Homo sapiens: one gene and its partner. The protein of the gene in region 2 purifies or fractionates together with the protein of the main gene of each other region. This does not show direct contact. Each region holds a gene or a part of one and is shown on either strand. Other genes may lie near its edges.

What was found.
Region 1: the proteins of STK31 (region 2) and FYTTD1 purify together in Homo sapiens (affinity purification with mass spectrometry; one large-scale study listed by BioGRID and IntAct). This does not show direct contact.

Annotation. Positions count from the first base shown.
Region 1 is NC_000003.12:197,784,221-197,788,041, forward strand, and holds the end of FYTTD1 (UAP56-interacting factor), read left to right. Parts: 3' UTR 1-3,376; downstream 3,377-3,821. UniProt on the Homo sapiens protein: Required for mRNA export from the nucleus to the cytoplasm. Acts as an adapter that uses the DDX39B/UAP56-NFX1 pathway to ensure efficient mRNA export and delivering to the nuclear pore.
Region 2 is NC_000007.14:23,709,004-23,713,296, reverse strand, and holds the start of STK31 (serine/threonine-protein kinase 31), read right to left. Parts: upstream 3,061-4,293; 5' UTR 3,012-3,060; coding exon 2,962-3,011; exon of another isoform or gene 2,527-2,961; intron 1,199-2,526; coding exon 1,152-1,198; intron 1,064-1,151; coding exon 1,011-1,063; intron 1-1,010.

The DNA of each region.
Region 1 (3,821 bases), on a different chromosome or scaffold from region 2:
TTTTTTGGAAAAGTTACATTTAGATCTATTCTGAAGCTGTTCATTTTTAACAAATAAAATGTTACAGGTTTCACATGATTTATTCTCAGCTCTAAAGATTGAGTTGTGGTTTTTAGATTGTTCTATGTTACGAAGAACTTTGTAGTGGTTATCTATATTTGTAGTTTTTAGGGTGTGAAACCTTATCTACTAGCAAAATTGGTAAATCACTGTAGACTCTTCTATTAGCATCCCTCTCTCTTTTGATGATTTCATTTGTAGCTCCAACAAATGAATCTAAAAAGAAGAATCCAGGCTGGGCACGGTGGCTCATGCCTGTAATCCCAGAACTTGGGGAGGCCAAGGCGGGCGGATCATGAGGCCAGGAGCAAGACCAGCCTGGCTAACATAGGGAGACTCTATCTTTACTAAAAATACAGACATTAGCTGGTGTGGTGACATGTGCCTGTGGTCCCAGCTACTTGGGAGGCTGAGGCGGGAGAATTGCTTGAATCCAGGAAGCAGAGATTGCAGTGAGCCGAGACCACGCCATTGCACTCCAGCCTGGGTGACAGAGTGACACTCTGTCTTAAAAAAACAAAAAAAAAGAATCCAGTATACTTTGCAATGCAGAATATTGGGTTAGATGAGCCTTTAGAGACTAATCCAGTTTAACCCCTCCTTTTTACACCTTAGTAAAGTGAGTCCTAGTGTTTTCAAGACTTGCATGTGGCAGAGTTATTTTTTGAGCTCAGATCTTCTAATTCTTAATTGATAATAAACTGCTTTGGTGAATTAACACCCACAGAAAATAGTGGAATGGTGTGTGGTTTTCAAATACCTAAGAATTGGTAATAGCCATGCTTTAGCATTTTTAGCATGGTAAGTAAATCTATTCTACCAGTGATGGTTATACTTTATTACTTTGCTATTTGGGTTAGGTAGACCTGTTAGAAAAGTCCAGTGTTCCTAATCAGATATGCATTTTTTAAAAACAGGCATAAACTCTTCACCACAATTTTAATTACAGTCATCCCTCAGTATACACGGAGGATTGGTTCCAGGACCCTTGTATATACCCAACCCTGCGCAATACTGAAGTCCCACATCTGTGTAAACGAAAAGTTGGCCCACTGTGTACATGGATTTTCCATTCCAAGATGTTTTTTTGGTTCAAAACAATTTGCTTATAAGTAGACCCAGGTAATTCAAAGCCATGTTGTTGAAGGGCCAACTGTTTAAGCCAATCGTAAAATACTGTGTCTGAGGAAACAGGCCTCATTGCTCAGCAGTGAGTTTTTATTAGACTAGGTATGTATATCATTATTAATATTTTACTGTAAATAGCTTTGTAATTCACACAAAGTATACGGGCCCAGCAGGCCTCATTGCTCAGCAGTGAGTTTTTATTAGACTAGGTATGTATATCATTATTAATATTTTACTGTAAATAGCTTTGTAATTCACACAAAGTATACGGGCCCAGAATAATTTTTGTTGATTTATTTTTACTATAAGGAGATAAGAGAAAAAATAGCTCACTTGGCAGCACAGAAAATGAATACCATATTGGCAATATTAAAGCAGAAAATAATTCATTTCTGATCAGTAGTGCTTTCAGTTTTCATCAGAATTATTATTATTATTATTATTTTGCCACTGTGAAAAAGCAGTTAAGCATGTAAAACTTCCCTTTAGAGAGGGTTCTTTTTGGATAGATCAATTTGGAACTAGCTTCTTTTTTTTTTTTTTAAATGATACTTCAGTAAACACAGCATTTACAACAAGAATTGTGGACTATGGTGGACCATTAATAGGGATTTAAAGATTTACTTAGAAATTGTAGACTTCTAATATCTTTTATTTCCCTTCTCACCACAGTTTATTTTCTTTTTTCTTTTTCTTTTTTTTTTTTTCTTTTTTTTCTTTTTTTGAGATGGAGTTTCACTCTTGTTGCCCAGGTTGGAGTGCAATGGTGCGATCTCGGCTCACCCCAACCTCCGCCTCCCGGGTTCAAGCAATTCTCCTGCCTCAGCCTCCCAAGTGGCTGGGATTACAGGTGCCCACCACCATGCCCAGTTAATTTTGCATTTTTAGTAGAGACGGGGTTTCTCCATGTTGGTCAGGCTGGTCTCAAACTCCTGACTTCAGGTGATCTGCCTGCCTCGGCCTCCCAAAGTGCTGGGATTACAGGTGTGAGCCACCGCACCCAGCCTACAGCTTATTTTCTACCTATGTTTAACAGGAAGCTTGATAACACAAGCAAATGTGATGCCATTCTGGGACTGAAATGTCGTCTTATGAGTGTATTCAGATGAGGTATACCAGTGTTTAAAGATTAGTTGGAAGTTATTCTCCTAGTGTGCATATTTAATTTCTACTTACTCCATTTCCCTTTAATGAGAAAAGAATCATATTGTCTGAATTTTCCTGTATAAAGTTTAAAAAAGTTAATTATTAGGACTTGTTTTTAAAGGAGTAAGCAATGGAAGGATCAAACATTTATTAAATATATTCAGCAAATATTTAGAATTAAATGTATTCAGCAAGGAAGAGAATGGGATTCATACTGCTTGGAGTTTATAAAAGCGGAGTTTTTTTATTTTTTGAGACGGAATACTCTGTCACCCAGGCTGCAGTGCAGTGGCACAATCTCGGCTCACTGCAGCCTCTGCCTCCCAGGATCCTTTCCGGGTTCAAGCAATTCTTGTCCCTCAGCCTCGTAAGTAGGTGGGATTACAAGCTTGAGCCACCACAGCCAACTAATTTTTGTGTTTTTAGTAGAAATGAGTTTTCACCATGTTGGCCAGGCTGGTCTCGAACTCCTACCCTCAGGAGATCTGCCTGCCTCAGCTTCCCAAAGTGCTGGGATTACAGGTGTGAGCCACCACGCCCGCCCTAAAAGTGGATTCTTTTTTTTTTTTTTTTTTTTGGAGACAGTCTTGCTCTGTTGCCCAGGCTGGAGTGCAGTAGTGATCTTGGCTCACTGCAGCCTCTGCCTCCCGGGTTCAAGCGATTTTCCTGTCTCAACCTTCCAAGTATCTGGGATTACAGGCACGTGCCACTACACCCAGCTAATTTTTGTACTAAGACGAGGTTTCACCATATTGGCCAGTCTAGTCTCAAACTCCTGACCTCAGGTGATATGCCCGCCTCTGACTCCCAAAGTGCTGGGATTACAGGCATGAGCTACGGAGCCCGGCCTAGAAGTGGAGTCTTAGAAGGAGTGACCATGATATGTTTCTACTGAGTAGAAGGGGGAAGGGAGGACATAACCTTTGCATGATATAGTGAAATGCAGAGCTGGAAAGAACTATTAAGATTTGAGTGAAACTTTTGCCCCCTGTGTTGAATGAGTTAACTTTCAGTCTGTAAAATAAACAGGAAGAACTGGGAAGTACACTGTATCAATTGCTAACACTGAATAACCTGCGCTGCCTGTTTTTTCAGCTTCTGCTCCCAGACCACAGACCAGTGGTGGAAGAAGTTACAGATCCCTGTAAGCCACTTTGCTCCTGGCCTTTGTACAACTATCTTTCATCATTTCTTTTATTCATCATTAGACTCTTTGGTGAACTCCCCACAAAGACTCCATTTCCTATATCTCTTTCTCATAAGACGCTGTCACCTACTTTATGGAGATGACTGAGAGAGTAGGGTAAGAATTCCCTCATAGTCTACCTTTACTTTGTAGCTGAAGCCTCAACTCCTTAGAAGTCACAGCGTTAACTGCTCAATCTATCTTTCCTTCCATCCTTCCTTTACCTAGGACTTGTTCTCATGTAATAGTATATATAGCATCTTCAGTTTCCCCCATATGCACAGGTCTTTCTTTTGGCTTT
Region 2 (4,293 bases):
CTTTTATAATATGTTTTTACTGTACCTTCATGTTTAGATACATAAAGACTTAATATTGTGTTACAATTGTCTGCAGCATTCAGTACAGTAACATGAGGTACAGGTACACCACATGGCCTAGGTATGTGGTAGGCTATATCATCCAGGTTTCTCTAAGTACATTCTATGATGTTCATACAGCGACGCAGTTGCCTAATGATGCATTTCTCTGTATGTATCCCAGTCATTAAGTGATGCATGACTATATATTTAAGAACTCTGGGTTAATCATATTCTTCTAGAACTTTCTTCTCATATATTCTCCTTATTTCCCACATTACGAGTTCACCTCACCCCCCACCAAAAGGAGTTCCCATGCTGTAGGGAGTATAGAGAAACGTAATTTCTTTCCCTTCCGTATCATGTATAGTTTACAAAACCAAAAATTAGCAGGTCGTTCTGTGCATCAGAGGAATTTACCTTCTTAAATTGTGGAACACAGCCCTTCAGTGCTTGCTTTGTATTTAAAACTGAGTAACCTTACCTAACTGACACCCTCCCAACAGAAAATCAGAAATGTTTCATTCATGCTTCCAATTCTATAATGAGAAAAATACCACATCTCAAATTTAAGCCATTAGAAAAAACGACCGAGATTTTTAACTTATCCTCCTTCAAGAAACAATCTTATAAAAGACCCCTAGATGGGGCTATAACTTCACAAATACAACAGGCTCTCAGAATCCAGCAAAAGCAGCCTAGAATTGAGTGGAATTCTGAAATCACAATCTTGCCAATTTTCTTTTTTCAAACTTGGTGTATTATGGGCATAACACTTGACTCATAATGAGTCAAGTAACATCACAGCTGTCAACATTTGTCTCCTAATAATGCCTGGTGATAAATAATTCAATAAATATTAGGCAATGAGAATGACAAATGTATTTATTCCTGGGTTTTATTTTTGTTTTTGTTGGGGAGGAACTGGATTGGGGGAGGTGAGGGGGGATATCAACCAGTTTGCTATTTACCTGGGCCCAAAATGTTACTGCATCTTCTATGTGACTTCCAACCACATCTTCCACTAAAATCAAATCACAATACAAGGAAAATTAGAAATTAATCAGTATCATCTAGCTCTTACACCCCAAAATAATTTTTAGTGTCAGTACCTTTATCGTAATGTGTATCTTCATCCATTTGAACAATTCCTGAAAAACTAGAACAATACCTTAAATTAGATTACAATAATCCACCATTAATAATGAATGAAGACTAAACTACATCATGTTCAATTCTTACAAATGTTTTGTCCTAAATGCAGTTATCAAAATTCAAACTCTATATTAAAAATGAGCTCAATATTTCCTTCACTAACTAATTCTTTTGAGTATTTTGTAGTAGATGCAATTTTATCATATATAATCTCTATCCTTAAAATTATCTCTAGCCAAACTTTTACAAACTTATACTGAACTCATATACATTTTGATCACTTACATAAATCAATACTTTGAAACAATGTACATATTCTTTTTTTAGAAAATATCCTCCCATAAAAAGGACTTCCACAATGTAAACAAAGAGAAACATTACAAGTAATAGAACAAATGCTTTAAACTGGTAGTCTATTTTATGTAAAAGGCACGGTGGTTACTATTTTTGAAGATTCCGTGGGATTAAAGACTGCAAAAATACCTAAAATTTTGCCTATTACTTCAAAAATAATTTTAATTACATAATATTATACTTTATCAAATGCAAAAATATTCCAAAATAAATGTACACTATGTAATTTTATCTGTAATATACTAAAATACTGCACTTTCCATTCATAAGTGTTGAAGGAAAATTAAAACACAGATTTTTTATGGGTTTTTTTTTTTTTCCCCCCAAACGAAGTCTTGCTCTGTCGCTCAGGCTGGAGATCTTAGCTCACTGCAACCTCCACCCCCCGGGTTCAAGCAATTCTCCTGCCTCACCCTCCCAAGTAGCTGAGATTACCGGCGCGTGACACCACGTCCAGCTAATTTTTGTATTTTTAGTAGAGACGGGGTTTCACCATGTTGGCCAGGCTGGTCTTGAACTCCTGACCTTGTGATTTGCCCACCTCGGCCTCTCAAAGTGCCGGGATTACAGGCCTAAGCCACCGCAATTTTTTAAGAGCTTTAAAAGTTGTCTAGGAACACCACTATACTAAAGTTTCAAATGCTCTCTCATTATGAAAAGGAAAACATTAACTCCTCATCACAGAAAAATAAAATTTTAAAAATGGATTACTTTGTCACAACTTAATTTTTTAAAAAAATTTTTCGTAAGTGGCATGAAAATGTCTCCAAAGCAAGGGTTCTTTTCTACTGGTCAAAAAGCAGTTTTTAAATTCAACTGACTGAAAAGCTGTAATAACTTTTAGGGAGACTATATATTCCCACGGAAAGCATTAAGGCTTAAATTCAGTAAAAGTTAAAATTACTTTGGAAATCTCTCCACACACTCCAAGAAGCTACTTCTAGAGTAGTTTTTAAATCTTATTTTAAAATGACTTGCCCTGATTATGAAGGCACTGATGCCGTACCCACTTTCTGCAAACAGAGATCACAAAATAGTACGTCCAAATCTCCACTTCGTGATGAAAATTTGGAAGAAACGGGTACACGTAGCTCTCTGACACTTATTTTATAAGGGATTTTGAAACTTAAATGGCACAGAATTTTCGAGAAGGGGAAGAGAGTGTGGAGGCTGCGTGACCGCGTCTTCATGGAGATCATTCAGGCCGGAGGTCTTTTCGAGCCACTTTCGCCTGCCTGCATGCACTCAAAAACTGGGGCATCTGGCACCCCTCTGGGGTGGCGGGCGGCTAGAAGGTGACAGAAAACCCTGAAATGGGCCTCGTCCCAGGATTGGAGACTTAAAACGCAAGCAGCGACGAAAATAGTCCTTGAAGCGGCCACCACTGCACGTACCACAAAAACTACTACTGACCTCACACTTTCCGTTGCGGAAGCTCTAGAAGAGTGACCCTGGACCCACATACTGGACTTTCGGCCCTCCGCCCGCCGTAGCACACGTGCAGCGGCTTACCGCGTGAGCTTCGACCGCAAGGGCCCCACACTGCGCCTGCGTGCACAGCGCTGCGCCATCATCCGGTGTTAGCGGGAGTCACGTGGCAGCCACGGCCTGCCGCCTAGGAAGAAGCGTGCGGGAGCCGCCTGACGCTGGCTGCTGCCGACCCCCAGGCACTGAGGCTGCGCCCTGGTGATTTATAGGCCGGGGTGGGGTCTAGGGCCAGTTCCTTTCGCAAGGCTTCAAGCTGTGACTTTAGAGGTGACGTAGGATTTCGTGGTCTTTCCTAATCTGTTCACGTGGATTTAAATTTTAGAAACACCCAAATTAGAAGAACCCCGACATTCTATTTACACGATGGAAGAGAGAAAATAACTTTGGTAACTGAAAATGTGTTTTTCAGATTGGTAGCTTTACAAGCGTTGGTCAACTAATCCTTAGATTCCACAGCTCTCTGTAGTATTACAACTTTTTCCACAATCTTAAGAAGAAAAAATTAGTTGTCTGCTTCTTTGCAGATATTACACTTTGTGGCAAACCTTACACAACAATTGAAAATTATCTCCGGTTAATTTTTAACAGCTTGAAGGTTAAAGTACAATAAACTGCAGATATCAAAAGTGCATAATTTGTTAAGGGTGAACATATGTATACACTGTTGAAATCACCTCCACAATTAAGATAAACTTTTCCATCACCTCAAAGTTTCCTCATGCCCGGTTGTAATACCTGACTCCTCCCAGCTCCCGTTCTGCTTTCTGTCACCATATATTAGTTTGCATTTTCTAGAATTTTACGATAATAGAATCATACAGTATGAACATTTAATCTAGCTTCTTTCCAATAGCATAATTATTTTGATTGATAAATTTCGTCCTATGTGTCAAGAGTTTGTTGGGTTTTATTGCTGTTACTATTCCACTGCATGAATATAACACAATTTGTTTATCTACCTTTTAATAGGTGTTTGGACTGCTTCCAGTTTTGAATTGTTTCAAATAAAGCTGCTATTGTGTGCAAGTCTTTGTATGGACATATGTTTTCATATCTCATGGGTTAGTACCTAGGAGTGGAATGGCCAAGTCATAGAATTGTATATGTGCTTAAAAAATTGCCGCATAGTTTTACACAGTTGTACTATTTTATATTCCCACCAGCGGGTTTCAGAGTTCTAGTTGCTCTATATCCTCACCATCATTTGATATGGTTTGTGTTTTTAAGTTTAAACATTCATGTATAAATGTTTAAAGT